Regions from separate parts of the Homo sapiens genome. Here regions 2 and 3 are each linked to region 1. The links come from fine-mapping of genetic effects on gene expression. A gene starts in region 1. Each other region holds a variant in brackets. All regions are shown on one strand. Distances are between the middles of the regions. Region 1 holds the start of ARHGEF3 (Rho guanine nucleotide exchange factor 3). Region 2 has its middle 25 kb from the start of TASOR. Region 3 overlaps ARHGEF3 (Rho guanine nucleotide exchange factor 3).

The links. PIP is the estimated chance that this variant, and not a neighbour inherited with it, causes the effect.
Region 2: its variant is fine-mapped to the expression of ARHGEF3 in blood mononuclear cells (TOPMed, PIP above 0.99).
Region 3: its variant is fine-mapped to the expression of ARHGEF3 in whole blood (TOPMed, PIP 0.99).

The regions. Positions count from the first base shown.
Region 1 is chr3:56,795,961-56,806,429 of GRCh38, forward strand. ARHGEF3 (Rho guanine nucleotide exchange factor 3) reads right to left here and starts at 5,989. Exons shown (of 10, transcript NM_019555.3): 1 at 5,743-5,989. The coding sequence starts at 5,838. RefSeq lists an enhancer at 3,575-3,624 and a silencer at 5,989-6,158.
Region 2 is chr3:56,702,718-56,713,186 of GRCh38, forward strand. No RefSeq gene overlaps it. Among named protein-coding and RNA genes, the nearest start is that of TASOR, 25 kb to the left of the region's middle. The variant G/A (reference allele first, on the strand shown) is at 5,729.
Region 3 is chr3:56,749,229-56,759,697 of GRCh38, forward strand. It overlaps ARHGEF3 (Rho guanine nucleotide exchange factor 3), which reads right to left. Exons shown (of 10, transcript NM_019555.3): 3 at 5,753-5,923; 4 at 4,276-4,338; 5 at 2,072-2,168; 6 at 1,828-1,904. Among named protein-coding and RNA genes, the nearest start is that of ARHGEF3, 47 kb to the right of the region's middle. The variant C/CA (reference allele first, on the strand shown) is at 5,572.

The DNA of each region.
Region 1 (10,469 bases):
ATTGGTGTCAACTAATTAAAAAAAAAAAAAGGAAGGCAATAGAAACCACTGGCTTTCACTCCTGACAGTCCATGAGCCAACATAAGAATAAATGGCAACGCAGTCACGGCAATTTCCTCATTTTGTGTGACCTCTACCCATTATCAAGGCTGACAAATTATGGAAGGCAACTGCACACATACATGACAAAGTAGCCCTTCCAGATACACACATCATCAATAACAATTACATTTACACAGGGCTTTGCAAAATTAGGTTGTGATCAGTAATTTATTTTCTTTCAGTAGTTATGAAAACGGTGGCATCTGTCCAGGATTTTTACGGGCAATCACAGGGTGTCTCGAGAAAATGACACAATTTGCAAATATCCAGATGGTATTTGGGCCTTCCAGTGATTGGTTTACACAGAAGGCTTGTGGTTAATATAGATAAGCAAAATGACTAACAGAACTGACGGTGGCACCTCCACACAGCTAAGCATGCAGAATTCTGCCAAAGACCAGCTCCTTGGTCTTGAGAAACACAAAATGAAAATTACTAAAACCCTCCCAAATGGGGGCTTGCAAATCCCACTCCCGTGGGTTGCAGCCGTTCTATGAAGTGGGCTGCCAGAAGTATTGACTAATGGTGGGGTTTCCTACCCAGACACTCAGGAAAAAAATGGGCCTTTGAGCATCAGGCAATTTTTTGGGCAGGTGGGTTCATCCTTCACGTGTTATGAGGTGAGAAGACCAATGATTTAGTCACTTAGAGGCAATGTGATGTGGTTGGAAAAGTACAGACTTCAGGGTCAACTGGGATTTTAGTCTCATCTCCTTGACCCAGCATTAAAGCCATCCTGGGAAAGCCACTACCCTGTTCTGAGCCTGTTTCTTCTTCTACAAAACAGGGCATTAATACCAACCTCATAGGATTACTGTGATGATGAAAGGACTTACGGTAAAGCCCCTAATGCACTGCTGTGTGTAAAACAACATTCAGGAAATTAGGCTGGTGATCATCATGTTTCTTAAAACCATTTTAAGAATCTTTTTTTTTGAAATGTAAAGGTCTTAATAATAATGACATTTTTTGAGCACTTACGACATGCTAGGCACTATGGTTAGCGCTGTATATGAAACATCTCGTTTGACCCTCACTATGGTCCTAGGAGTTAGAGCTCTCATCATCTCCATTTTACCATTGAGGAAACAGGTTTGGAGAGGCACAGTAGCTTGTCCAAGGTCACATCAACTAGCAGGTGGTGGAGACAGCATTGAGACTCAGGCAGTCTTATTCTAGTCAATGCCCTTGAACAGCATTAAATGTACACATGTAAAGTCAACATATTTTCCTCTTCTGTTGCTAGTTCATGTGCATTCTTAAGGACCAAGATTCCCAAAATAATTTTCCAACTGAACAGCCTCGGAATGATGGCTCAATGACCATAACCAGATCCTATAGCAAGTGATGGCCTTTTTCTGGGTAGCTCCGTGTGGCTTCCCATCCAGCAAGATCTCTGAGGTCATATGATTCCTGGAGTCTATTTAATCATCTGAAGAAATTACAGGATTCTAACTGCAATAACTCCTTATGACTAGTTTCATGTGTGTTCAGGTATACTATCTGTTCAATACAATAAGATACAGATTCCAAGAAATGTATAGATTACTAGAAACCAGTAACCCTCTGGCTTTTCAGCTGGCATTCAAGAAGTACAGCCCGAGGTGCATACAATTTTAAAATGCACATGTTGACTGATAGAGGCATAAATCGTGGCAGGAGCATAGGGTTCACCTTGCCCTTTAGAAGTGGGCCTTAAAGGATACCTTCTCAGTTATGTAAGGTGCTCAAGGTTATACTTAAAAGATAATATTTTAAAGTATTTTGCATGTCTGTTAAGTTTTGTACTACCACCCCACCTTTTATCCCACAAAGGTAAACACCCTTAGGTGCTACAAGGGATGCTGATATTAAATGCTGGACGGAATCCATCAGGAAATTTGACATTGGATCTTGGCTTAGCTGCTGATTTTCTTTGCAGCTTTCTGCAAATCGCTTCCCCTCAGTGTCCTTATTCATAAAGTGGAGAGAACAGTACAAGCTTTATGTTAACCTTATTACAAGTGTGGGGTCTCAAGTGAGACACTAGACATGGTAGACATAGAAAAGGAGCAGAGCTCTGTCATTTCTAGGTGCATGTCATTATTCTCAGGGTCATGCAAGGCTACTGGCTAAGTCAAAATAAGAACCTATACTTTGGAGACCCAGGGCAGTATTCAGCTATTCATGAGATAGGCCTATGGTCTATGGCACTACAAATTTTTAAAACTGCTGAGAGTCAAAAGCAATGGCTACAAATACCATTAACTAAATCAGGCCTAATCTGACCAATATCTAAGATGGTAAATTTTAAAACTGAAAGTAAGTTGTCCACCAAGTTGTCAGATATATTCTTACAAAAATAACAGAAACACCTCTTTGTATTTTGATTAAAAATGAACTGGACCTAAAACTCTTAAAAGCTTCTCACAAGGCTCTAGCTTCCTTAGCCAATGTGTGCACCTTACCTGAGCTTGCTTCCTTTTCTTTACTTCGTTTTTTTTTTTTTTTTTTTTTAAGCCTTCTTTTTAAAAAGCAAACCTCACTACGGGGAAATATTGATTTTTAACTTACAATCAGGATAATTCATTAGAGGTAACACATTTTCTTTTAGTGATTTGATCAGGTGTTTAGCGCAGCTATGTAGACCAGTCCCTTTTGGCATGGGAAGTAGATGACCAATAAATACAAAAACAGATAAACTGAACAAAGCTGCATCAAAGATCAGAAGAAATAAACTTAATGCTCGTATCATATCACATTTTTCTGTGAAATTCTAGAGCCATGAACTAAGCTCCTTAGATTTCACAATTAATGATTACAGCCAGCAGGACCTCACTGATTATGGATATTAAAATTAAACATTTGCCAACCAATTCAAACCCCCATGTCATAAGAAATAGCAGATTAAGAGGCAGTATTATACTAACAGACATGCAATATTATAATCCCTGTAGAATATTTTCAAAAGCTTAAAATAGATCTTTTAAAGAAAATAAAAATACATTTTAAAAATATCATTTTTTGCTTTCACTGGAAACTACCACAAATAAAAAATTACAAATCACTTAAATCTTGAGTAGAAATTTTATTTGCTTTTAAGAGAATGCTTATTTTTGCATATTTTTTTACTCAGTGTACGGTATCAAATGCACATCAATGCCACTTGCCTGTTCCCCAGGAGCCTTTTCCTAAGTGATTTTCCCCAGTACACTTGCTGCAAGGATAGGAGTCAATGCTAGAAGGCACTTCCCAGTGCCATGCTGTGTGCACTGTCCTACCCAAGGCAAATTCGGAAGGAACAGCCATTACACACGGCCATTAAATGTTTAAAGGGCACAGGTGCTCTGTTGCAACGGCCTTTGAAGGTCAACAAGTCCTGTTTTCCTAGAAAGGCCTCTGGATAGATCTATTTTTCTTTTTATTATAACCACATTCTTTCCACAAAGAAAACAATCACTCTTAAAAAAATACTTTCAGAGGAATTAACAGTCAATGCCTAGCTTATAAACAATTATATAATCATGTTTTTCAAAAGGCTGACAAGCGAATGCTATTTTTTAATTTATGAATACTGACGACACCTACTGGTGGAAAATATATTTTAGTTAACTGCTTATGGAGAAGCTAGGCCTACAAGGGTTGGCTGCCTTTTGCGCTGATAAGGAAACCAGAAAACTACCCACTAAACTCACTTAGGTTTCTTTTTCCAATTTTGCCAATTTCCATTATCAGGAAGTGATATGCTCATCGATGAAGCTAAAAGATATCTCTGCCTCAAAGTGTATAAAGCATACTTGATTTAGTGTTTAAATCAAACACTAAAAAACAAAAACCCCAATAGTGATATCTGAAAAATATTTACCAACTATTTCCAAAACTATTCCAACCCCTTCCTTATTTCTCACATCAGGATATCCCCATACGAGGAAAATAAGTCATATTTTATAGTCTAGATCCAGCTACCAATGAAGAAAATTAATATTTGACATGTGATAAGTTTCATATTTGTGATATATAGACATATCTATATTCTATGTATAAGAATAAAATGAAATTAAGCAGGCAAGTTTTACCTAAGCCTTTAGCTAAACTACTCAAAAACACAGGACTAAGTAATAGTAGGAAGGGACTGGTTAGAGTCCTCAGCTATCCTCACTATTCTTTTCTTTGGCCCACTTCAATTTATTAATTTATTGGTTATGCCTTTCTTCCTTACAAGTGGAGTTTGAGTGGGCACCAATTGCGCTGCTCCTATGTTGATTAAATTAGGAAGTTCCCACTGAAAAAATATTATATCCATTCCAGGCCTGACCAACCTGAATTCTATGCAAATGCCACTAGGGCCATCACACTTTCACAGCTGCTGGCAACAAAAACTCTTTGTGATAATATTCGACTGAGCTGGAGTGTAGGGTTGGGTTTGAGTGAGGGAGAAGTTAGTTTGTGCTCAGCGTATAGAAAGCTGAATACAACCAGAGACTGCTTGGAGTCCTGTCAGCCTGGAGCAGCTCTTGCTAGAGGAAATGAATCTTTGATGGTGTGCTCCCGAATATACATGATTCAGTGAGCCAAGTGCATACAGCTGAGCAGACCCAAGGAAGGCGAGTGGGTGGAACCTCAAGAATGCTGTGACAAGGCCGGATGCACACCTGCCTTCAGCCTTTCCCCAGTGGTGGTGGTGATGTTTGATGTTCGCAGAGTGAGGTGTGGGAGAGTGGAAAGCTCCCAGATACACGCATGAGCGGCAATGACTAGCTGGGTCCTGTGGGTTCCACCGCAGCTTGACCACAGCAAAGCTGTAATCTAGCGAAAGCGACTGTATTCCCTAAGACCCTCAAAGAGAGGGATGCTTTCTCCTCCAGCTGAACCCAACCTTTAAGGCCAGTGAGCTATGTGCCAGAGAAATAACACGCAAGAGGAAAAGGCAGACTAAACATAACCTGGGAGCACTCCTTCACATCGCCCGCAAGGCACAGGAAAGTTCCCAGAAAGAGAAATGTTTCCAATGTTCCAAGGCAGCTTTCCATTGACCCTAAGGACTTTAATTCATTTTCAAGATCCATGTGGGAGACACTCCAATTTACTCATTTAGCCCCAGCCCCCCGGCTGAATGACCCTCACTGGCCACAGGTGATAGGCAGAGGCGCTGTGTCCTGTTTTTGCTGCCAAAGGGCTGCAAGGCCAAGTCTGACAGGTGAGAGGGCTGGTACGTCCCTCTGCTCTCACAACCCAGGCAAAAAAAACTCGCTTAAAGGGTAGCGACACTGGGGCTTGCTGACACTTCCCTGACACTGGGGCTTGCTGACAGTAGGAGAAAGTCCCTCTGAGAGTCCAGACAGAAGATGGACAGTCTGAGAGCCCTGCAAAGGCAAGGAGGCAGTTGCTCCCAGACCGGCAGGTAGAGGGACAGGGAGAGAGGAGGCAGCTAGTGCTTGGTCCACAGAGAAAAAGCGAGAGAAAAGGAGACAGGGTGAGAGATGGCGACGGGGAGACACAAAGAAGACTGTGGGAGAGATGTAGAGAGAGAAAGTGGCACACACGGAGAGTGAGAGATGGAAACAGAGACAGTGACACTGGACGGGCGCCGAGAATGGGAGATGGAGGCAGACGAGACAGGCAGATGACCCATAGAGGTCCAGGTGCAGGGCGCGGCCCTACCTCAGCGTCCTTGGCCGGACCGCTGGCCGGGGGTAGCTCCAGGCTGCAGTTCGCTCTCTTGACCGTGAGGTAGAAGGGGTAATCCTTGGCCACCATGGCGGCTGCCGGGCCTGCCCTTTGGGATGTCACCGCTGACCCTAGGCGACTACAAAACTCCCAGGCAAAAGGGGGCCCCAGCTCCACGATGCCGGGCGGCGGCGGCGACACGGAGACCGACAGCCGGCTTCTAGCCGGGCAGGACTCGACTGGGCTCCGGAGCCGAGTGGGCGGGACCGTGCCAGCCACGCCTTGATGGGTGGGGAGGGGGCGGGCCGCCGGCTCGGCACCGCCCCACGCTGCCGGGAGGGCCCACGTGCCGCAGCGCGGACACCTCCTGGGGCTGCGAGGGGCGTGGGGCGGTCCCGCGGGTGGAGAGGGACCTCTCTCTCCCCGCTGGTATTCGACTCCGGGCGCCCCCGCAGAGCGTGGGCCGCGATTGCGGGGCAGGCAGACCCCATGATAGCTCCTTTCGGGCTCTTTGGCACTCTCCGGGTGAAAGGCTGCTGGTAGAAAGGAGGCTGGGGCGAAACCGGGCAACGGGGAGAAAGGAGGCTGTAGTGACACCTGGAGGCAGGAAGGAGCCTGGGGGGAAAAGCGAGCGTTTTAAAAGCCCACATTAGAAAGGGGTGGTGTTCTCTCTTACCCTGTTCCCAGGCCACTGCACGTTTTTTTTGTTTTGTTTTGTTTTTGTTTGGTTTTTTAAATGAATGTCAGTGGAATATAATCTACAAATGGCAAAATGCACCCATTTTAAGAGTACCGTTTGTTGAGTTCTGACAAATGTAAACACCCGTATAACCACCTCCACAGTCGGTATACGAAACATTTCCACCACCCCCGGAAAATTCCCTCGAGACCTTTCCCACTTTGCACCAACTTTTAAATTTGACTAGCATATTCAGAGGCTGCCTGACACTCGAGGGCAATCTGACAGAGTGTCCTTCAAGTATAAAGCTGTGCATGGATGACCTGGCACTACCACACCTTTCTGGATCCTTTTTGGAGAAACAATGACATTATAAATGCCCAAGAAGGCGATTGATCTTAAGGTTGTTTGCAGCAGCCCTGTCTGGGGCAGTAAAAAATAAAAAATAACTGGAAACAATGGTAATATATCCATCAATAGGGAGTGCTTAAATAAACTTTCTTCACTGTGTAATACCGCTTAGCAGCAGTGAAAAAGGAGATGGGTCTATGGGTGTGGCATGGAAAGATCTCCAATGTATTAGACTCAGTTTAAAAATAATTGCAGACTAAGCATAATACAATACCATTTGTGTTAAAAAAAAATACAAGTTTACCAAAGAATATCATATATTTTCTATAAAGACATATTTGTGGGTAAATAGCATTGAACACTGTCTACAAGAATCCACAGCAAGCTTTTACCAGTTCCCCTGTGGCTGAAGGGAGGCACCTGGGTTTAAAGAATTAAAGATAGTGAACAAAAGGGACTTAAGCTTATAGCTCATGTTTTAAAATTTTTTATAAGAAAAATACAGCCTGGGCAGCAGTGAAACCCTGTGTCTACAAAAAAAATACAAAAAATTAGCCAGGGATGGTGGTGCACACCTGTAATCCCAACTACTCCAGAGGCTGAGGTGGGAGGATCACTTGAGCCTGGGAGGCAGAAGTTGCAGTGAGCCAAGATCATACCACTGCACTCCAGCCTGGGTGACAGAGACCCTGAGAAAAAATAAAAAAGAAAAGAAAAAAAGAAAGAAATAGAGGAAGGAAGAAAGGAAAAAGAAAAGAAAAGAAAAGAAAAAAGAAAAGATGGCTAGGTAGAGTGGCTCACACCTGTAATCCCAACACTTTGGAAGGCCAAGGCAGCAGTGTGGCTTGAGGCCAACAGTTCAAGACCAGCCTAAGCAACATAGCAAGACCCTGCCTCTACAAAAAAATTTAAAAATTAGCCAGGTATGGTAGTGCATGCCTGTAGTCTCAGCTAATCCCGAGGTTGAGGTGGGAGGATTCCTGAGCCCAAGAGTTCAAGGCTGTGGTGAGCTATGGTTGCACCACTGCACTCTAGCCTGGTGACAGAGTGAGACCCTGTCTCAAGAGAAAAAAAGAAAAATACCTTCATTCATGGCACTTCTTGGGAAATTATAGTTTTTTAAAATATTATAATTATCATATTTTCTTTCTTTTTTTTTTTTTTGAGATAGGGTCTTGCTTTGTTGCCCAGGCTGGAGTGTAGTGGCATGATCTTGGCTCACTGCAACCTTCTCCTCCTGGGCTCAAGTGATCTTTCCACCTCAGCCTCCCAAGTAGCTGGGACTACAGGCCTGGACCAGTGTGCCCAGCTAATTTTTGTATTTTTGTAGAGACAGGGTTTTGCCATGTTTGCCCAGGCTGGTCTCCAACCCCTGAGCTCAAGCAATCCACCTGCCTCAACCACCCAAAGTGCTGGGATTACAGGTGTAAGCCACCATGCCCAGCCCTAAAATGATCATCTCTCAAAAGTTATTTTGTAGACTGTACTGTTGAATCTTTTTCCTCCTCATGTGGAAAGTCATGACTACATCAGGTGGTGATCTATGGAGACACTATCTTTTGTTTTTACTTCCTGGGGATGCAGGGGATAGTGGGAATGGTGATATCCAGTCCCTGTTTGCGTGCTCTTTGCTTCTAGCTGAGGTCAGAACCCAGCAGTTCCTACTTCTCAGGCAGGACACCTCATAATACATAGCTCTTCATCCCAGGTATCAAATCCACACCCTCACACTAAATCCACTTACTTTCCTACCCAGCTAGTGCAGACAAACTGCCTTTGGAGGCAGAAAGAATTGGGCCCTGTGTAACCAGCCTGTTATTACCACACATGTAAATGAAGCTCCTGAATGGGTGGAGGTTCCAACTGAAATTGAAGAGAGCACCTGAGTTTTTTTCCCTCGATAGATAACCTGAAGCAATAGGAAGAAAACTGTCTCAGAAGAGGTATGGGGCAGGAAAGAGCACCTCAGAACCACTGATTTTTCCTATTTGTATTCCTGAACACAATTTTATCCTTTTAGCCTGAGCTGTGCTGATGGGGAGCTCACACAAGTGCTCCAAAAGCTTAGCCAAGCTTGGTGGGGGTGTGAGAGTAACCTCATCTCCAAGTAGCCCCTGATTAACTATGCAGCCAAAGGCAGGGCCAGAGGCAGTGACATGCGTCACTCAGGGCTTGTCTGGCCACCAAGAACCTGTGCCCAAGTACCCGAGCCACTTCTTATTCCTCTTTCTCTGCCTGCTCTTCTGGCCCTCACAGTCCACTATCTCAACTAGAACACATTTGCCATCAAAGCCACTGGCTTTGACTCCCAGAAGAGCTTGCTGGGCCGTGTTCTCAAGTTGGAAAATATACTTACAGCACTTGGTGAAGAAAATAGTCACCCTGGCGACGTCTGATAGCCCTGGGACTGGGTTGCTCATTGCAGTATCCTTAGGGCCAAGCAGGGAGTCTGACATACCATAAATCCAGTGTAACAGTAAACAAACCCTAAGAAATATGTTTATTTTATTTTTTTGAGACAGGTCTCACTTTGTTGCCCAGGCTGGAGTGCAGTGGCACAATCTTGGCTCACTGCAGCCTCAACCTCCTGGTCTCAAGCAATCCTCCCGCCTCAGCCCCTCAAGTAGCTGGGACTACAGGCACACGTCACCACGCCCAGCTAATTTTTATATTTTTTGTAGAGATGAGGTTTCACCATGTTGCTCAGGCTGGTCTTGAATTCCTGAGCTCAAGTGATCCACCCACCTCGGCCTCCCAAAGCGCTAGGATTACAAGCATAAGCCACTGTGCCTGGCCTCCGAAGAAATGTTAAAGTGCAACTTAGGTTGAAGCACAACTATTGCAGAGCAATGAACAGTCATATTGATTGATGAGAAGGCTGCCGTATCCATCTTCTCTTAAAACATTTCTTTGCTTTCCTTAAAATATACTGGAGCCATAAAAATCAATAAATACACAGGGCTACACAACATATATATGACAAACATACCTCTTTTCCACTATACATGCTAGGCAAAGAGAGACAGACAGAGGCAGAGAGATTACTAATGGCCTGTAACAATTTAAATAGTGCTATAAAAAAGCATAAGCTACAAAAGGAAAGATGGGAATCTGGAATTCTCTTGGGTGGTCTGATTCTTCCAAGCTTCTTATAGCACGAATGTCTCACCATCCAGAATAGGATTCTGGTGTTTAAATACAGATATTTTTGGTACAACAAAGCCTATAAACTCAAGCCAGCAATTTGGGGTGCATACAAGCCATGTATATGGTCCTTGAGGCATTTAACAAATTTTTCAGGAGTATTTTTTTTTAACTTCCATCAGTATATAGGTTAAGGTCAGGATTAGCTATTTCAGGAGTATTTCTGACCTCATGCAATTTCCACCTTGGTCCCTGACTTCAGCACCTTCCCCATATGTAATGCACTGCTCCACCATTGACAGATTGGGGTTTTAGGCAATCTGCCTGAGACACTATCTGGGGGTGTCCGTGAACAAAGACTGTCAGAAAACAGGCACCCCTGCAGGAGGGCCTCCAAGCATATCCCTAAGGTTAGTGTCACAGTTGAGGGAAGCTGGTCCAGTCCTGCAATGCCGCCAAGCTAAGTGGCCCCAGGAGCCCAGAGCTCCCCATTCTGCCTGTGTGTGTGTTTACGGGCTTAGGAACAACACTGCTCTAACAGGCAGCT
Region 2 (10,469 bases), 93 kb before region 1:
TTCAAAACCCTAGCAGCTTTTCTGTATTACCTAATAATATTTTTAAAATATTCCCCCAGAAGAGTTCTGTAGTTCCACAACTACAATCTCATAGTATTTGTGGAATTACAGTATTACCATACTTATATTTAGGCAGGACAGAATTCTTCCCAGAGTTCAAAGACTGCGGAAGGCTCTTAGATGGATAGGACCTGGGGCAATGCCAAGAGGGAATAAAGACGAGCCACAATGTCTTACTGGGGTCATCTGCCTGGTGGTTTTCCAACTCTTTTACAAAGAGTCATGATTTAAGGTACAATGGGATTCTTTTAAAAAATATGTTGTCACTGCAGGTATGGTGGCCCATGCCTGTAGTCCCAGGCACTGGGGAGGCTGAGGTGGGAGGATCACCTAAGCCCAGGAGTTAAGAGTCCTGCCTGGGCAACATAGTGAGGCTGCATCTATAAAAGCACGCATATATATGTATATGTGTGTGTGTGTGTGTGTGTGCATATATATGCACACACACACACAAAATATATATACACACACACATACTCACATATTTTATAGTTGTTTATATAAGCATGTGTATATATATTTATAATAACAGTTACAACATATATATGTTGTAACTATGGGTCTGAGTTTTCTCATCTGTAAAACTGAGATAATAATTGCACCAGCAGGGCGCAGAGGCTCACACCTGTAATCCTGGCACTTTGGGAGGCTGAGGTGGGTGGATCACGAGGTCAGGAGTTCGAGACCAGCCTGGCCAATATGGTGAACCCCCATCTCTACTAAAAAATAAAAAAAATTAGCTGGGCGGGGTGGCAGGCACCTGTAGTCCCAGCTACTCGGGAGGCTGAGGCAGGAGAATTGCTGGAACCAGTGAGGTGGAGGTTGCAGTGAGCAGAGATCGCCGCACTGTACTCCAGCCTGGGCAACAGAGCAAGACTCCATGTTGAGAAAAAAAATGGCACCTAGGCCAGCCACCTGCAGTGGCTCACACCTGCAATCTTGGCGCTTTGGGAGGCCAAAGGGGGAGAATCCTTTGAGGTCAGGAGTTGAAGACCAACCTGGGCAACAAAGCAAGACCCCACCTCTACAAAAAAATTAAAAACTAGCTGGGCATGGAGGTGCATGCCTGTAGTTCTAGCTACTCGGGAGGCTGAGGCAGGAGGATTGCTTGAGCCCAGGAGTTCAAGGCTAGAGTGAGCTATGATCACGTCACTGTACCACACACTGTATAATAGGGCAAGACAGTGTCTCAAAACAAAATAATAATGATTGCACCTACATCTTAAGAGGTTGTTGCACAGATTAAGCGTAATGTAAAATGACTGGAACACTGTTAGGTGTGGTTTTTGTTGTTGTTGTTGTTGTTTTGTTTTTTTGTTTTTGTTTTTTTTTGAGATGGAGTCTCGCTCTGTCGCCTAGGCTGGAGTGCAGTGGTGTGATCTCGGCTCACTGCAAGCTCCGCCTTCTCGGTTCATGCCATTCTCCTGCCTCAGCCTCCCGAGTAGCTGGGACTACAGGCACCCGCCACCACACCTGGCTAATTTTTTGTATTTTTAGTAGAGATGGGGTTTCATCGTGTTAGCCAGGATGTTCTCGATCTCCTGACCTCGTGATCCGCCCACCTCGGCCTCCCAAAGTGCTGGGATTACAGCTGTGAGCCACCGCGCCCAGTCACTGTTAGCTGTTTTTTAAAAAAATTGTAAAATACATATAACAGAAAATTTACCATCTCAACCTTTTTTTTTTTTTTTTTTTTTTTTTTTTCAGATGGAGTCTCACTCTGTCGCCCAGGCTCCTAGGCTGGAGTGCAGTGGTGCAGTCTAGGCTCACTGCAACCTCTGCCTCCCGGGTTCAAGTGATTCTCTGGCTGGCTAATTTTTGTATTTTTTACAGAGGCATGTTCACCATGTTGGCCAGGCTGGTCTCAAACTCCTGAGCTCAGGTGATATGTCCACCTTGGCCTCCCAAAGTGCTGGAATTACAGGCGTGAGGCACTGCACCTGGCCTCAACCATTTTAAGTGTACAGTCTACATAAGCAGAATATATATGGGAGAAAAAAGCATACAGTCCAATAGTGTTAAGCATATTCACACTGTTGTACAAATAATCTCCTATCCCCTTTTCATATTGCAAAACTGAAACTCTATACCAATTAAAGAACAGCTCGCCATTTCCCTCTCCCCGCAGTACTTGCTAACCATCACTCTACTTCCTGTCTTTATAAATTTGACTACTCTAAGTACCTCATAGAAATGGAATCATATAGTATTTGTCTTTTTGTGATTGGCTTGTTTCACTTAGCATAACATCCTCAAGGTTCATCTATGTTTTATCATATGTCAGGATTTCTTTTTAAGGCCGAATAATATTCCATTGTATGTACACAGAGCTGTTACATTTTAAAACAGAAATTTAAAAAATGACTTTGAGACTCCTGCTTCCAATTATACTGATCCCCCCATAAACAACTAGAAAACTGGCCAAAATACTCTAAACAACTATATTCAGAAATCAGACAATAGGCAGTGTGGATTGTAATCCCTAAAAGAAAGGAAACAAAAAGGTAAACCCTAAAACCACACCGGAATTTTGTCTGAAGGCAATTTCCAGGTTGTGGATGCGGGGAGGGGAATGCAAGTGAAGCTGAGCAATCTCTCCGAGATTTGGGGAGCAGAAGGTAACTGAAAGTTGCCAGGCAAAATTCTAGAGAATTGGAAGCTTTGTAGAAAAAGAGTTTCAGAAGACCGCATAGGAAGTCCCCTTGACTATGCATGTGTGGAGTAAAACCTTCATGAGGCTGAGAAAATAAAGACTTGGAATTGTAAACTGAATTACACTCAGTGTTCAAACTGAGTGGGGAGAAGTGAGAACTTCAATTAGCCAAGGTCCTGAATAACCAATGGAAAGTCTTCAATAATTAACTGAGCCATGTGACAAATATTCAGGGGGATCATGCTTAGACGGAATAATCCTGGAGTAAAGGCTAATCTATATCTGCCATAGCAAAAATTAAAATAGGCCTTAAAAGTATCAAACTGGGCTGGGTGTGGTGGCTCACGCCTGTAATCCCAGCACTTTGGGAGGCCGAGGCAGGCGGATTACCTGAGGTTAGGAGTTCAAGACCAGCCTGACCAACATGGTGAAACCCTGTCTCTACTAAAAATACAAAAATTAGCTGGGTGTAGTGGCACATGCCAGTAATCCCAGTTATTCGGGAGGCTGAGGCAGGAGAATTGCTTGAGCCCGGGAGACAGAAGTTGCAGTGAGCCAAGATCGTGCCACTGCACTCCAGCCTGGCTGACAGAGTGAGACTCTGCCTCAAAAAAAAAAAAAAAAAAAAAAGAAGGTATCAAAATAATCTATAATTAGCTTACCTGCCTGCCATAACAAAGCCTGATCTTCTCTTCCTCTCTTCTCTTCTCTTCCTTTGTTTCCAGCTATGATTGCACCACTGGAGTATGGTGGTGCAATCATGGCCCACTGCAGCCTCGACCTCCTGTGCTCAAGTGATCCTCCTGGCCTCCCAAAGTGCTGGGATTATAGGCATAAACCACCACGGCTGGACTAATATTCTTCTTCTTTTTTATCAAGGTGCTCAACAAAAGTAAACTGGCCTAATATCCTTAAAATAACAACAACAGCAACAAAATTCAGATGCTTACAATGTCCAGCATCCAATAAAATATTACTAAACATGCCAAGAAGCCAGAAAGTGCTAGCTTATAACCAAGAGAAAATCAATCAATGAAAACAGACAAAAATGATACGGATGCTGGAACTAGCAGATAGAAATATTAAAATAACTATTATTACAGTGTAAACACAGTTAAGTGAAAATATGAACATCATAAGCAAAGAAATGAAACTACAAAAGAGTAACACATGGAATATCCAAAGATTAAAATATAGTATCAGAATGAAAATGGAAGTTTCTCTGGAGGTATTAAGATTAGAAACTGCTAAAACATAAATAGTAAACTTGAGAACCTGGCAATAGAATCTGTTTTTAAAAATGAAGCACAAATGTTAAAAATATTTTTTAACCAAATGAACAGAGCCTCACTGACTTCTGGAAAAATATGGAGTGGTCTAACATATTCATAATTGGAGTCTCATAAGGAAGGATACTACAAAAAAACTATTTTAATAAATATTGGCTTATAGTTTTCAAATTTTATGGAAATCACAGACACAGAAACCCAAGACATTCATTGAATGCCAAGTAGGATAAACATTCTCACACATACAAACCTCACCAAGGCATGTCATAATTAAAATCACTAAAAAACCAATGATTAAGATACAATCTTAAATGCAGGCTCCTCTCAACCCCAAATACACATTACATACAGAAGAACAAAGATAAGAATTATTCACAGGCTTCTGGTAGAAACTGCAAACCAGAAGACAATGAAGTAATATCTTTAAAGTGCTCAGAGAAAAAAATATTGTAGATTAAAATTCTATTTTCAGTGAAAATACTGTTTAAAAATTAAAACAAGATTAAAGATTTTTCAAACAAAAGCCGAGAAGTTTATTGTTAGTATATATCTCCAATATAAAAAATGTTCAAAGAAAGTTCTTCAGGCTGAAATAAAATAATACCAAATGGAAACTTTTTTCTATACAAATGAAATAAGAGTACTAGAAAGGTAAATATAGCCGGGGGCGGTGGCTCATACCTGTAATCCCAGCACTTTGGGAGGCCAAGGTGGGTGGATCACCTGAGGTCAGGAGTTTGAGACCAGCCTGACCAACATGGAGAAACCCTGTCTCTACTAAAAATACAAAATTAGCCGGGCGTGGTGGCACATGCCAGTAATCCCAGCTACTCGGGAAGCTGAGGCAGGAGAATCACTTGAACCTGTGAGGTGGAGGTTGCAGTGAGCCGAGATGGCGCCATTGCACTTCGGCTTGGGCAACAAGAGTGAAACTCCATCTCAAAAAAAAAAAAAAAAAAGAAAAGGTAAATATTGGCACAGATATAACAATTTTTTCTAATTGTTTTATTTCTTTAAAAGATAAATATGTCTATCTATCTCTATTATGTTAAAATAATAATAAAATTTGGAGCTTAAAACATGAGAAGACACATGTGTAACAACACTACCACAGAGAAGGGGGTGAAGGAAATGGAAGTATATTGGTGTAAGATTCTACGTTATACATGAAAGGTATGATACTATTATTATTATTATTATTATTTTTGAGACGGAGTCTCACTCGGTTGCCCAGGCTGGAGTGCAGTGGCGCGATCTCAGCTCACTGCAACCTCTGCCTCCTGGGTTCAAGCAGTTCCCTGCCTCCTGGGTTCAAGCAGTTCCCTGCCTCAGCCTCCGGAGTAGCTGGGATTACAGGTGCCTGCCACCACTTCCGGCTAATGTTTGTATTTTTAGAAGAGACGGGGTTTCACCATATTGTCCAGGTTGCTCTTAAACTCTGGACCTCATGATCCACCCGCCTTGGCCTCCCAAAGTGCTGGCATCACAGGCATAAACTACCGCGCGTGGCCGGTATGATATTATTTGAAGGTAGATGGTGATAATTTAAAGAACAAACACTAAACAAACAAACAAAAAACCAAAAAAGACCAAAGAGAATAACTACTAAAGGGGAGACAAATACAGTATTAGAAAATATTTAATCTGGTCAGGTGCTGTGGCTCACGCCTGTAATCCCAGCACTTTGGGAGGCCGAGGCGGGCAGATCACTTGAGGTCAGGAGTTC[G/A]AGACCAGCTGGGCAACATGGCGAAACCCTGTCTCTACTAAAAATATAAAAAATAGCCGGGCGTGGTGGCACGTGCCTGTAATCCCAGCTACTTGGGAGGCAGAGGCATGAGAATTGCTTGAACCCGGGAGGCAGAGGTTCCCTTGCCACTGCACTCCAGCCTGGGTGACAGAACGAGACTTTGTCTCAAAAAAAAAAAAAAAAAAGTAATTAATCCAAAAAAAGTTGGTAAAGAGAGAAAGTGGAATCTAAAACAAATGGAACATACAGAAAACAACTAACAAGATGGCAGACTTAAAATGAATTATATTATTAATTACATTAAACATAAAGGGTATAAAGCTTCCAATTGAAAGAGACTGTCAGGCTAGATTAGAAAAAAAAAAAGCAAGAGGCTGGGCGTGGTGGCTCATGCCTGTAATCCCAGCACTTTGGGAGGCTAAGGTGGGTGGATCACAAGGTCAGGAGACTGAGACCATCCTGGCCAACACGGTGAAACCCTGTCTCTACTAAAAATACAAAAATTAGCTGGGCCTGGTGGCATGTGCCTGTAATCCCAGCAACTCGGAGGCTGAGGCAGGAGAATCTCTTGAGCCAGGGAGTCAGAGGTTGCAGTGAACCAAGATCATGCCACTACACTCCAGCCTGGCGACAGAGCAAGACTCTGTCGCAAAAAAAAAAAAAAAAAAAAAAAAAAAGCAAGACTCATATATATGCTGTCCACAATAAATCTATTTAAATATATATTAGTCCGGGCGTGGTGGCTCAAGCCTGTAATCCCAGCACTTTGGGAGGCCAAGGCAGGCAGATCACTTGAGGTCGGGAGTTCGAGACCAGCCTGGCCAACATGGTAAAACCCCATCTCTACTAAAAATACAAAAAATTAGCTGAGCATGGTGGCAGGTGCCTGTAATCCCAGTTATTTGGGAGGCTGAGGCAGGAGAATCGCTTGAACCCAGGAGGTGGAAGTTGCAGTGAGCTGAGATTGGGCCATTGCACTCCAGCTGGGGTGATAGAGTGAGACTCTGTCTCAAAAAAAAAAGTATACACACACACACACACACACACACACACAGATTAAAATATATAAGATGACAAAATATATACCATATATGCTACAAGTCAAAAGAAAGCTAGAGTGGTTATGCCAATATAAAGAGACTTTATAATGAGGAGTATTACTAGAGCTAAGGGAGAAACATTTCATAACCATGAAGGGGTAATTTCATCAAGAAGATAAAACAGTCCTGAATGTGTTGGTATCCAATAACAAATCTTCAAAATACATATCCCAAAACTGATAGAATTTAAAGGAGAAATAGACAAATCCAAACTTACAGTTGGAAATTTTAGTACTTCTCTAATTAATATAAAAGGTAGACAGAAAATCAAGGCCAGGTGTGGTGGCTCACACCTGTAATCCTAGCTTTTTGGGAGGCTGAGAAAGGAGTTGGAGACCAGCCTGGACAATATAGTGAGACCCTGTCTGAAAAAGCAAACAAATGGCTGGGCTCGGTGGCTCACACCTGTAATCTCAGCACTTTAGGAGGCCGAGGTGGGGGGATCACCTGAGGTCAGGAGTTCAAGACCAGCCTGGCCAACATGGTGAAACCCTGTCTCTATAAAAATACAAAAATTAGCTGGGCGTGATGGTGGGTGCCTGTAATCCCAGCTGCTTGGGAGGCTGAGGCAGGAGAATCACTTGAACCTGGGAGGCAGAGGTTGCAGTGAGCCGAGATCACACCATTGCACTCCAGCCTAGGCGACAGAGTGAGACTCTGTCTCAAAAAAAACAAAAACAAAAACAAACAAACAAAAAAACACCAAGAAATTAGCCAGGCATGGTTCCAGTATTTGCCATTCCTTTTCCACATTGTACCTGGGTCATCTTTTCACTGACATTTTAATTGAGATAACTGCAAAGTTGTAATAAATAATACAAAGAGATCCTGTGAACCCTTTACCTTCTTCCCCCCAGTGGTAACCATTTTTCAGAACTACAGTAGAGCATCACAAGCAGAATACTGACATTGATAAAATCTGACAATCTTATTTAGATGTCCACATTTGAACTTGCACACATTTGTCTGTGTATAACAATGCTGGATTTAAAAAAAAAAAAATCTTACAGGTCCCTGGGGACTCTGCTCATATATATATATATATATATATATATATATATTTAACTGTATTTTATCTTTTTTTTTTTTTTGAGACAGGGTCTCACTCTGTCACCAGGACTGAAGTGTAGTGGCATGATCTTGGCTCACTGCAACGTCTGCCTCCTGGGCTCAAGTGATCCTCCCACCTCAGCCTCCCCAGTAGCTGGAACTACAGGCAGGTGCCACCACACCCAGCAATTTTTTTTTTATATGTTTTTGTAGAGACAGGGTTTTGCCATGTTGCCCAGGCTGATCTTGAACTCCTGAGCTTAAGCAATGCATCCACCTCGGCCTCCCAAAGTTCTGGGATTACAGCGTGAGCCACCTCACCCATCATTATTTGTTAATATTTAAGTGTGTTTTATGGTTCAGATAAATTCTATTTATCTGTCTTCGAATTCCCTGATTCTTTTGTCTGTCATCTTCACTTTACTATAGAGCCCATTCAAAGAAGTATTTTAAAATTTTTCTGCGCTTGTATTTTTAAGTTCTATATTTTCCATTCAGTACATTTTAATATAAGATCTATTTATTTGCTGAGACTTCCTGAAGAGAACTTGTAATGACTTTTGAAGCATTTTTATGATAGCTGGTTTAGAATCCTGTCAGATAATGCCAGTATTTGACTTATTTTTTTGTTGGCATCAATTGATGATCTTTTCTCATTCAAGTTGTAATTTTCCTGGTTTTTGGCATGATGGGTGATTTTTTATTATATTCTAGACATTTTTCTATTACATTAGGAGCATATTACTTAAATCTTTTAACTGGCAGTTACCTTGTTTAGGTTTAGTGTGCAGGTCCTGGGCTAATTTTATGGGCTGTGGTTCCAATGACATTTTTCAGAGCGCTTTCAGTGTTATTTTGGTCTGCTTGGTTTATCTGATGCTGCTGAGGCTCCCACTGGTCCTTATTGGTGCTGCTGGAGGGAACAGAGGTTCCCCAGGCTAGACCACCAGGTGTCTCTCAGTTGGGGAGATGAGACTCAGAGCCTTGAGGATGAAGATGTCTCCCTGGCTGGGTGCTTGGCAGGATCCCCTTTGCTTGTGAGGGACAAAGACTGCTTCCTGGGCCCGGTGCTTGCTGTGGTGGGACCTTGCCATCTCTGGGTGGGGGAGAGGAGTCTCAGGCCAATGGGAACACAGAGGCTTCCTGGGCTGAGCCACTTGTGGCAGGGTCCCTCTTGCAGGTACCACCTGGTTATCTTGGTATCTCTCAGTGGGGAAGGAGACTATTTCCCATGGCACTTGTTAGCAGGACTCCCAACCAATCCCCATCTCTGGTGGTGCTGGCCTCACCTGGTGGTATTGGAAGGCTCCTGTTGGATCTGGGAAAATGAGCCTACCAGGGCTGTCTTCTATTGCTGCTTCAAGAAATGCTGGGCCTGGGTCAGTGTCTTCTGTTGGGTGGAGAGTAAGATACCCTGCCACTGTGTTGTTTCTCTAGTTCCAGGGTCTCAAACCAGTTTGCCTTCCTATTCTTAGCCTTCAGAATTCTTCTTTGGTCGCCTTTTGAGTTATTTCTAGGGTTTATAGTTGTACTTAGTGAAGAGGAACAGGGAGGAATGAGTCTACATCATCTTATCTGGACCAGAAGTTTGGTTTATTTTTATTTTTTATTTTTTTTTAGAGACACAGCCTCGCTCTGTTGCCCAGGCTAGAGTGCAGTGGCATGATCCTAGCTCATCGCAGCCTCAAACTCGTAACCTCAAGTGATTCTCCCACTTCAGCCTCCCGAATAGCTGAAACTAATAGGCATGCACTACCATGTGTGGCTAATGTATCATTTTAAGTAGAGATGAGATCTCATAACTTTGCCCAGGCTGGTCTAGAACTCCTAGCCTCAAGTGATCCTTCCACCTCAGCCTCCCAAAGTACTGGGATTGTAGCCATGAGCCACCATGCCCAGTCCTGGTTTATTTTTATTTATTTTATTTTTTGAGACGGAGTCTCGCTTTGTCGCCCAGGCTGGAGTGCAACAGCACGATCTTGGTTCACTGCAACCTCCGCCTCTCAGGTTCAAGCAATTCTCCTGCCTCAGCCTCCTGAGAAACTGGGACTACAAGTGCACGCCGCCACGCCAGCTAATTTTTTGTATTTTAGTAGAGACCGGGTTTCACTAGGTTGCCCAGGCTGGTTGTGAACTCCTGAGGTCAGGCAATTCACCTTCCTCGGCCTCCCAAAGTGCTGGGATTACAGGCATGAGCCACCGAGCTCAGCCTATTTTTATTCATTTTTAATTGTAGTTTAAAAAACCCACATAAAAATTAGCTAGGCGTGGGGGCACATGCCTGTAGTCCCAACTACTCAGGCGGCTGAGGCAGGAGAATAGCTTGAACCCAGGAGGCAGAGGTTGCAGTGAGCCGAGATCGCACCACTGCACTCCAGCCTGGGCGACAGAGTGAGACTCCATCTCAAAAGAAATAAGTAAAAACCCCACATAATATTTACCACCTTAACTGGCTTCAAGTGTACAGTAGTGTTAAATATATTCACATTATTGTACAATAAAGCTCCAGAACTTTCTTATTTTGCAAAGCTAAAACTCTTATCTCCATTAAACAAAAACTCCTTATGTTC
Region 3 (10,469 bases), 47 kb before region 1:
CATCCAGATAGCAATGGGCCAGCATGGTCACACTTCCTTTGGGTATGTACAGAAAATGACTGCAAAGCTGCTCCCAGATCAAACCAATTTTCTAATAAACGTGACAAATGTTTATTTCAGCAAAAAGTTACTAACAAGGCAAATTCCTACAATTTTGCTTCTGGCATAAACTGACAATTTGCATATGATGCTTAAGGAAACCATGTAGTCCTGTACTGCTGTCTCATCAAAAGCAGAGGAGTTATCCTACAAATTCTGGAGTGTGGCCTAACTGCTCCATTTACCCCCATATCAAAGCAGTCCACAGACTCAGGAAGTTTAAGAGACACTGAGGCACTCTCTACTCATTATACCTTCTTTGTCTCTGTCTGTCTCCGGTTGGCTGGCTCTCTTTGGAGAAATTTCTTTGTGGGCTAAAGAAGTTAAAACATCTACGATGGCTCATAATAAAATGAAAGTCAAAAATATAAGATGAATGATCTCTCTTGAAATATTAAGGCATATTTTCTAAATTATTCATCTTAGAACATTACTTGCCTTTCGGATACCTTTGGGATATTTCAGCCTTGGTGCTAAAATTGACTCCTGAACTAAAGCTATTTAAGTCATGAAACTCTCATCAAGTATCTTGATCAAGGCAGTCATTGAGAAACGTAAGTTAAAAGATCAATGTTAAAACTTTCTGCACATCTATGTGTTATCAAGGCATGTTAACTGAAAGGTTTTAGGAAGATTAAAATGCAGATGTAACGGAATAAAGAGAACTCACATAGCAACAGTAGGATTTATAACCTTCACAACACTCTCCAAACAGTGAAATAATCTCTAATATTAGCTGTTGTGGTACTTCCTGCCTATTTTTCTGGAATACTGTGAGCAACAGAGTGATGAGAGACCTAATCTTGCCTGGAATAAGTCAGCAAAGTAATCTCCTCTCATTATCTGCTTTATAACAAATGAAAAACACCTGGAACTGGGGTGGACCATTCAAGCACTCACAGAAGGAAACATAAATGTGTAGAATAGGGAGCGGTGGGGACTGAGGCAAAATAAGAGCACACGCCTTGTCTAGCGTAAGTGAAACAAACAACTTTAAGTACACAATAAAACACAAATCCAGCCCCAGGATCATAAATTTATGACTCCTAATCTAAGATCACAGCTTACTTCTTTTTATTTAATTAGGAAAAGGAATGGATTATATTAGGATGAAGGTCACCATATACCCAGCTCTCCTATAAATTACTTAGCATGGTATATATGCTAAACATTAGCAACCTTTACTTATTATCTTGTTTATAAAACTACATTTTGACCATGAGATTTTTTTTATGGCCTAAAAAGTTTTTTTTAATATGCTAAACATTAGCAACCTTTACTTATGATCTTGTTTATAAAACTGCATTTTGACCATGAGAATTTTTTTTTAATAGCATGACAAGTTTTTTTTTTTTTTTTTTGGTAGTGGATATATGTCAATAAATTTTTATTGGAGTATATTATGTTAGCGATTGGCCTGACGGAATATTAACTAGTTTTATTTTGATACGAAACTAGTAATAGTTTCATGTGTACCTTTACTTATTTTGTTCCAAAAGGCCCTGTTACTTTTAAATGCAATAAATTTGTAATAAGAAAAAAACTATTTTCATGCTTTAAAGATACAAAACTTAAATTTAATTAAAATTTTACTAGGATTTTTTTTTCTGATGTGAAACCAACATTTGTAAAAAAATAAAAATAAAAATAAAAAAAGTCTAGCTAAAATGAAACTCCCATCTATATTATTGAAATTTATCTTCAATAAAGACCAGAGAACTTTCTTACCCAGCCCACGAGGATGGGACCAACATGTTCAGTCGAGCCATCAGGCTTCCTAACATCTCGAAGCTGACTAAGGAGCTCTGGCAAAAAACAAACAGATGCTTATTTGTTAGGCATTCAAATATGAACAGGGCTGGAAGTAGGTTCTGGGTTATTCACATTGCAGGCAATTAATAATCACTCACTCATTATAAGACAACTCAGTTAAGGCTACAAGTCACGACTCATCCTGGGAACAAAATTATACCTTCATGTAGAGGAATTAGAGAGTCCAGTGTTCCAAAAATTTGATTCAACTCTTGTTCTGTCATTATGGAGAGTTTCAGCATGGGGTCATGATAGGCCTGCACAAAAACGGCAAGAGATGGAAGCACATGTTTAAAATCAGAGGAAGTACATTGTTCATGTAAGTGGCTCCTGAGAGGTCCTATCCAATAACAAAACTTCTGGCTCTCTAACAACTTCTCCCATAAAGCTGCAGAAACAGCAGAGAGGTGTGGCTGGAGGAGAGGAGAAACCAGCACTGCCTTAAGCCTTTGTGGTTGATAAACCAAAGCAGATTTTTCAAAAGCTTTTTTATTCTAGTATGTCATATATCTAGGAAAGAGCACAAATCCTAGGTATAGAACAGATTTGACTGTTAAAATGTTTTCAAAATCAAGATCCTGCCTCTTAAAAAAATCCCACTTTATTCAAAACTAGCTACTAGCAGATTCTTTTTTCAATTAGTACATATTTAAAATAAAGAAAAAGAGGAAAGAAACAGTGATTGGTATCCTTTACTACTGATTTGAACAAAGAGAGCAAAGGTGATAATCCTATCACCTCTTACTAGAGAAAATTAAACAACAAGAATACACAGTTATACCCAGGGCACTAAAATAGAACACAAAGACTTAAAAGTCTCCTACCTTCAAGGAATTTTATAAAGCTAATGGGGAAGATAAGAAAAACTAAAATATTTTCTAGTTTATATTTTAGTTTCTGATCTCATGGAAAACTAAATCTATGTTTAAAAAATATTTTTTTCTTTTTTTTTTTGTACTTTTTAGTAGAGACAGGGTTTCACCATGTTGGCCAGGATGGTCTTGATCTCTTGACCTCGTGATCTGCCCGCCTCGGCCTCCCAAAGTGCTGGGATTACAGGCGTGAGCCACAGCACCCAGCCTAATTTTTGTATTTTTTAGTAGAGACAGGGTTTCACCATGTTGGCCAGGCTGGTCTTGAACTCCTGACCTCAAGTGATCCTTCTGCCTCAGCTTCCCAAAGTGTCGGGATTATAGGTGTGAGCCACCGGACCCGGCTTATGTTTAAAAATTAAAGATTAAAAACCAGACTGATGTCACAAGACAGCAAAAAGCCATCAAATCAAAACTGCTCTAGAAGGTCAGAGAATTAAAGCTGGAGTGGCCAAGGGAAGTTTTGAAGATAAGCTGCTTGGTACAGAGAAGGAGGCAATAAATGTTATGTAAGAATAAACTGAGATTTGAGCTGGTTCCTGAAGGATGGGTGGATATGAATGGTTGAAACGAAAGAGAAAAGTTTCTAGGAAGGTAGGGCCACCATAAGCAAAAGGATGGCTGGGAAACACCTGAAGGTGCTTGAGTTTGGCAAATCTTGATGCAGGAAAGGGGAGTTAGACACCAGCATGATAACTCTCAGAGTGAAATAACTTCTTTGTCCTCTCTGATCTCCTCCTCCTCCAGCTCTGCCTAAAACTCAGTTTCTTGGCTGTGTCCAAGCAAAGCTTGGGTGGCCATCTCTCAGGAATGCTAGAGGTGGAATTTCATCTTAGCAGAAAGACTAAAAACCCTTAAAAGAAGGGATGTAGCCTTCCAACCCTGTGATTCTTCGAGGAGGCTGTGAATATCAGATGAAGGAGTCTGGATTTTAGCCTCCAAGCCATGGAGTTGGGGGGCTGTGCCACTGGAACGAAAATGTTTTTGAGGAAGGTTTGTTGTCCTCCTCCTCCCCACACAAAATGTTGATTAGAAAACAAATTCCTATATAAAAGACCCCAACTTATATGATAGTATGCAATTGCCTCATTTCACTTTATTCACTTTTGAGATTCAAATGGCTTTATTTCTAAGACTCAGTTCAAGTTTCAGACATGCACACATTCTCTCCTATGGGCAAAGAGTCCTACATATGAGACTTCTAGGACAATGAAATATACATAAGGCGAGGCCTCCATGGACACTTTCTGATTTAGGCTGAAGTATTCTTTGACATGCATTAGAGACATACAGAGGTAAACCCCTAAAGGTGCCAGGTCTGGAGAGCTATTCTGCCCTCTTGTTTTGAAACACTTTCCCCACTGCTTGGTGTGTGGTAGCAGACCAGTCTTAGTCATAAAGACAGTTCTCACGAAGCACCACTTTAGGGTTGTGAAATTACTCAAGAAAAAAAATGTGACTTGACTCAAGTGACTGCTGGATTTAAATTTACCTTTTTTGCTAATTTCAAGTCTTCTATCAAGTCTTCTTCTCCTTGGGAAAGCTCAAAGATCGCCTGCAAGGAAAGATAAACATATTCACTGAATTCTCCCTTCATTTACAAGACCATATTCAAATAGTGCTGGCTCCACCACTCAAAACCCCAAATTTACATATTTAAGTATTTTAAGTTACGTTAACCTGAAGCAAATGCATCTATGCTTAAACCTGCAATGAAAAGATATTGCAAAACTGCTGCATATTGTGCTTCTCTGTTTGTGGGAGAAAGTTTCTACACATTTCTAGTCCAAAAAGTCATCTTTCATGTTACAGAACTTTGATGCAGCTGAACAAGAGGGAACTATTTTAGGTAAAATAATTACAGTGTGAGCCATGGATTTGGTACCCTTGTTGTGAGAGGCCATCATAAGAAGTGATTCAGAGGCTCTTCTAGATAATGGATGTGGCAGTATTATTAACTGGGCCATCCCCACTTTTTCTTCTACTCGACAGAAGGCGAATCTCAGCAGAAAGTTTTATTTGTATTATCCACTGCCTTGAGGCTGAGATTGTAGGAAGAATCCAACATTTTATCACTCCAAATACAACCTGGTGAAGTTAATTCATTCTAAACCACTTCTCAGCCCCACAGGTACAACAAATAAAATTATAGGCGCTGGCTGTGTGGAAGAGTAGGTAAATGGACCGTTTCTAATTTGGCTCTATTAAGCCATCATGCTAAAGAGCTATGATGCACAGAACACTCTTTCACTTCCATCTGGGAAGTCAAACTGTCAGCAAACATTACATTATTAAAGGAGTACAAGTTTGTAACGATATTTCAGGGTCTACTGTGTTTCAGGATATAGGGAAACAGTGGTCAGGCTTTGAAAGCTCCCTCCACCTGGGGCTGCTTGGTAAACTGAGGACAAAGCAGGTGGAGGCACAACCCTGAGCTGGATACTCCAAGGATCTCATCAGATGATGCACACATGAAGTGCTCAGCACAGCCTGGCACAAGCACTTAAACAAGCTCTTCTATACAGGGTAATATTATCAGAGTCATTTAGGGCAACTGATACAGAAAACTTACCGGGAATGAAATTAACTGGATTCTATAGAAAGGAAGTTTTCCATGAAGCTGAATCAAAGCTATGTAAACTAAATATTTTAAAATAGTCTATAAGTTGCTAACAAAATATAACTAAAATGATTATTTTTGTGAACTTCAGAATCCTAAATAGACACTTGGTTTCATCTTCTTGTAAATTCATATTTTCACATCAGTTTCTTTTTAAAGTGGGGGCCA[C/CA]ACCCTCCCAGCTGGTTTCTGGTTTCTCAGTTCCTTCCCCAAGGTCAGACACTCTTGTTTATCCTTCTGCAAACGCAATGAAGAATTGATTTGGAGACTAAGGCGCAAATTCCAGCATGGCTGACGCTGCAATGCACCTTTGTTCCAGACACACAGCCAGCTCCATGGGCCCCGAGCCTACCTCCTGACGTTTGATTTCCTTGGATGTAAGCATCTGATTGACGCACACATCGAAGGTCTCACTCCACAGCTTGCTATCTCTCCGTTTCGTGCTCGAGGGGGCGGCATTTCTGGACCAGGGTCGGGGGGCGAGGATGTCAGGGCGGCTCTCACTGCGGAAGCTAATGGAGCGCTAAACAATGAGAAAAACAAACCATCACGGGGGCAGCGGCAGGACTGGGTGGATCTTTGAGCAGTTTCCTGTCGTTGACGGAACATAAATCATATATGTGAAAGAAAAAGAGGACATTGCCACAAGGCCTTTGGGAAGTGGGGCATTGTCTTGAGCCTACGTGCTAAGGAAAATTGGACAGGGGGCTGCTTTGGAACATGTGCTGGGAGTATCTGTTCTGTGTGACCTGGATACCAAGTGGACTATAGTGCAAGCACATATCAGGCCAAACTCACGCATGAAGGCAGTTCTTGGATACGTGATGAGCTCTACTTTTTTCCAGTGGACATCTCCCCTCTTTAAAAGAACCAGAGATAACAATAGTGGATGGCCTTTATTTATTCAAACATTTGGCCAGTACTCCTACTCTCCTCCTTCTATAAATAGAATCCCACTAACTTTGGGTATCCTATTACATATAGTTTTGGTGGGCACCCCCAGACCTGACCAATAGAGTATTCCACCATCCTAGTTCAGGGATGGGCATGTGATTCCCTGAAATTTGTCACATGAGTTACGGGAGAAAGGAGGAAAGAGTATTCCTTTGGGATTGTGAGTTCAAGAGAGAACACAAGCAGGGCCTTCCAGCAGCAACTCTCCCTAGTTACACAGAAGCATCTGTCTGCTACAGGAGAGAATAAAGAGACCCAGAATGAAGGATGGAGTGACCAATGGAGGCAGGAAGGGAGCAAGCTTTACCAATACTGCTTGAGCCTCTGGATCCCACTGTGCCTGAAACCAGAAAGAACCACCCTTAGACATTTTCATTACATATAGAAAGACATTTCCCTTTCTATTATCTCAGTTGGGGTTCTGTCAACTTGAAAAGTCCTGACTAATACACATACTAAATACCATCTTTGCAGCACATGATTCCTGTCCCTGAGGTATTTTCCTATTTCCCAAAGAGGCCGCAGAAGTCCACCTGTGTGACTTAAACATGCTACCAAAATGCTTTTCATGACAAATACAAATGATCCAGAAGAAAGCTGAGTGCATCATTTTCAGTCTTCATCCTAGAAGATTTCATCACACTTATTGGAGACTTTGCCAAAGCAATGAGGTTGCTGTGCTCCAAAACCACATTGTTATTTAGGAAGTGTTCCCTGCCATGGCTCTCTGTGGCCTTCAGCAGGAAGTTTCAACTCCTCATCTTGGCACAGGAAGTCTCTTGTAATCTGACCACAGTCTCCATATTTAGGATCCCATCCTGCCACTCATCCATGAGCCTCCATTTCTCCAACCATACTAGGCTATCTGTCATTCCCTAAATATGTCATGCTTTGCCATCCCTCTGTACTCCCTTCAAACAATCTTCTCTTCCTGGAATGTGTTTCCATCACTTCATAGCTGGCTTTTTTTTTTTTTTTTTTTTTTGAGACAGAGTCTTGCTCTGTCGCCCAGGCTGGAGTACAGTGGTGCGATCTCGGCTCACTGCAAGCCCCGCCTCCTGGGTTCACGCCACTCTCTTGCTTCAGCCTCCTGAGTAGCTGGGCCTACAGGCGCCCGCCACCACGCCCGGCTAATTTTTTGTATTTTCAGTAGAGACAGGGTTTCACCATGTTAGCCAGGATGCTCTCGATTTCCTGACCTCGTGATCCGCCCGCCTCGGCCTCCCGAAGTGCTGGAATTACAGGCATGAGCCACTGTGTCCGGCCATAGCTGGCTAACTCTTAACTGCCCTCGGGATGTAACTCAAACAGCACCTCCTCTAAGAAGTCTTCACCAACATTCTCCCATCCTCCTCCCCCAGAGCAATTCAGACATACTTCTGATATAGCAATGATCATACTTGATTATAATTATTGGTCACCTGCTCTTAACTAGAAACTTCCTGAGGTCAGGAATTGAATTTGCTTATGACATATGAGCCTTCATCACAAAGGCATTCTAAGGTAGTTCCCAGTTATTTTGAGATTCAACAATAAAATTCCAGAAAGTAAAGAAAAATTTTAAAAGGAACTATTCAACATAAGGGCATTGTTAAATAAGTTGTAAGTGGCTGGGCACAGTGGCTCACGCCTGTAATCCCAGCACTTTGGGAAGCCGAGGTGGGTGGGTCACCTGAGGTCAGCAGTTTGACACCAGCCTGGCCAACATGGTGAAACCCCGTCTCTACTAAAAGTACAAAAATTAGCCGGGGCGTGGTGGCATGTGCCTGTAATCCCAGCTACTCAGGAGGCTGAGGCAGGAGAATCGCTTGAACCCAGGAGGCGGAGATTGCAGTGAGCCAAGATCGTGCCACTGCACTCCAGTCTGGGCGACAAGAGTGAGACTCCGTCTCAGAAAAAAAAAAAAGTTATAATTACCTGCTGGATGGAATATTATCTAGACAATTCAGAGATAATTTAAAATGTAAACACCCCTTCTATGTAGCCTAAAATAAAATCAGGATTAAAAATCTATATGTGAACATTTTATAGTTATGCAAAAAATGCACATGAGCAAAGATATAAAGGGAACATCACAAAATTCTATTGTTGTTTCATGTTGACATTATGAGTGATTTCTGTCCTCCTTTATATATTTTTAGCCTTTTTTTTTTGTTTTGAGATGGAGTCTTGCTCTGTCGCCCAGGCTGGTGTGCAGTGGCGCAGTCTCAGCTCACTGCAAGCTCCGCCTCCCGGGTTCACACCATTCTCCTGCCTCAGCCTCCCAAGTAGCTGGGACTACAGGCACCTGCCACCACGCCCGGCTAATTTTTTGTATTTTTAGAAAAGACGGGGTTTCACTGTGTTAGCCAGGGTGGTCTCCATCTCCTGACCTCGTGATCCGCCCGCCTCGGCCTCCCAAAGTGTCTAAAATGGCCGGGCGTGGTGGCTCACGCCTGTAATCCCAGCACTTTGGGAGGCTGAGGCGGGCGGATCACCTGAGGTCAGGAGTTCAAGACCAGCCTGAACAACATGGTGAAACCCTGTCTTTATTAAAAATACAAAAAAAATTAGCTGGACGTGATGGTAGGTGCCTGTAATCCCAGCTACTTGGGAAGCTGAGGCAGAAGAATTGCTTGAACCCGTGAAGTGGAGATTGTAGTAAGCTGAGATTGCGCCACTGTACTCCAGCCTGGGCGACAGAGCAAGACTCCCTCTAAAGGAAAAAAAAAAAAATAGAAAATGAGGCGGGGCTTGGTGGCTCATGTCTGTAATCCCAGTTCTTCGGGAAGCCAAGGCAGGCGGATGGCTTGAGCTGAGGAGTTCGAGACCACTCTGGGCAACGTAGCAAGACCTCATTTCAGTTCTAAATTAAAAAAATATATATAGATATATATGTAAGAATAAATGAAAAATGTAAAAAGAAACTTCCAAAGAGCTTCAGGGTATTACCACAACCTTCTGGAAGCAGGACGCTCACTCTGCAAGTAGCAACACAAGCCCCTTAGGCTGGCACAAGTAGTGGGGGTGCTCCTGGGCTCACTAATGAGCTCATGATGGCTGGACCAGCCCTATGCAGGTCAAGAAAGTACTTGCACCAAATACACAGTTCACTAATGGTATCTTACAAATCCTTGTGATCTCTTAAAAACAGTCCCTTGTAAACAGTAACCAGGAACTAAATGCACACAGATCGCCAGCACTCGGAATCAATTAGCCACAAGCATTAAAAGGTCAAAACAAGTGCAGTGAGTCATTAAGTAACTTGCTCAACCCAGTTTGCAGTTCTGATGGCAGCTGAGTTAAGAATTAAAGAGCAGAAAGAAAGGAAACACACACAAAAACTTCAAAATGAAAGTTTCCACTTTCACTTGAGAGAATCAACCTCCTATCCTGTTATATTTTCAGTCCTTGGCTAACTTTAAACTCCCCCTACCAGTTTGAAAATAATGTATGCTAACTTTAAATTCTCATACATTACAAAAGTATATAAAATTAAGTACAAATGCCCTCATTTCCCCAAGTCTATCTCCTAGAAGTAACAACTGTTAAGTTTGTTCTAGCTCTTTCCAAACTTTTTCCATGCATTTGTTAACATTCATAGAAAACTGAATTTTTTTTTTTTTTTTTTTTTGAGATGGAGTCTCGCTCTGTCGCCCAGGCTGGAGTGCAGTGGCACGATCTCGGCTCACTGCAAGCTCTGCCTATTGGGTTCACACCATTCTCCTGCCTCAGCCTCCCAAGTAGCTGGGACTACAGGAGCCCGCCACCAGGCCCAGCTAATTTTTTTGTATTTTTAGTAGAGATGGGGTTTCACCATGTTGGTCTCGATCTCCTGACCTCGTGATCCGCCTGCCTTGGCCTCCCGAAGTGCTGGGATTACAGGCGTGAGCCTCCGCGCCTGGCCGAGAATGTTTTCTCTTTCTACTTGACAGTATCTTGAGGTGAAATTTACATAACTCAATTACTTTTTCGTTGTTGTTTTTTTGGAGATGGGTCTTGCTCTGTTGCCCATACTGGAGTGCAGTGGTGCAACCATATCTCACTGTAACCTCAAACTCATGGGCTCAAGTGATGCTTCCACCTCAATCTCTTGAGTAGCTGAGATTATAGATGAGTGCCACCGCTAAGCAAGT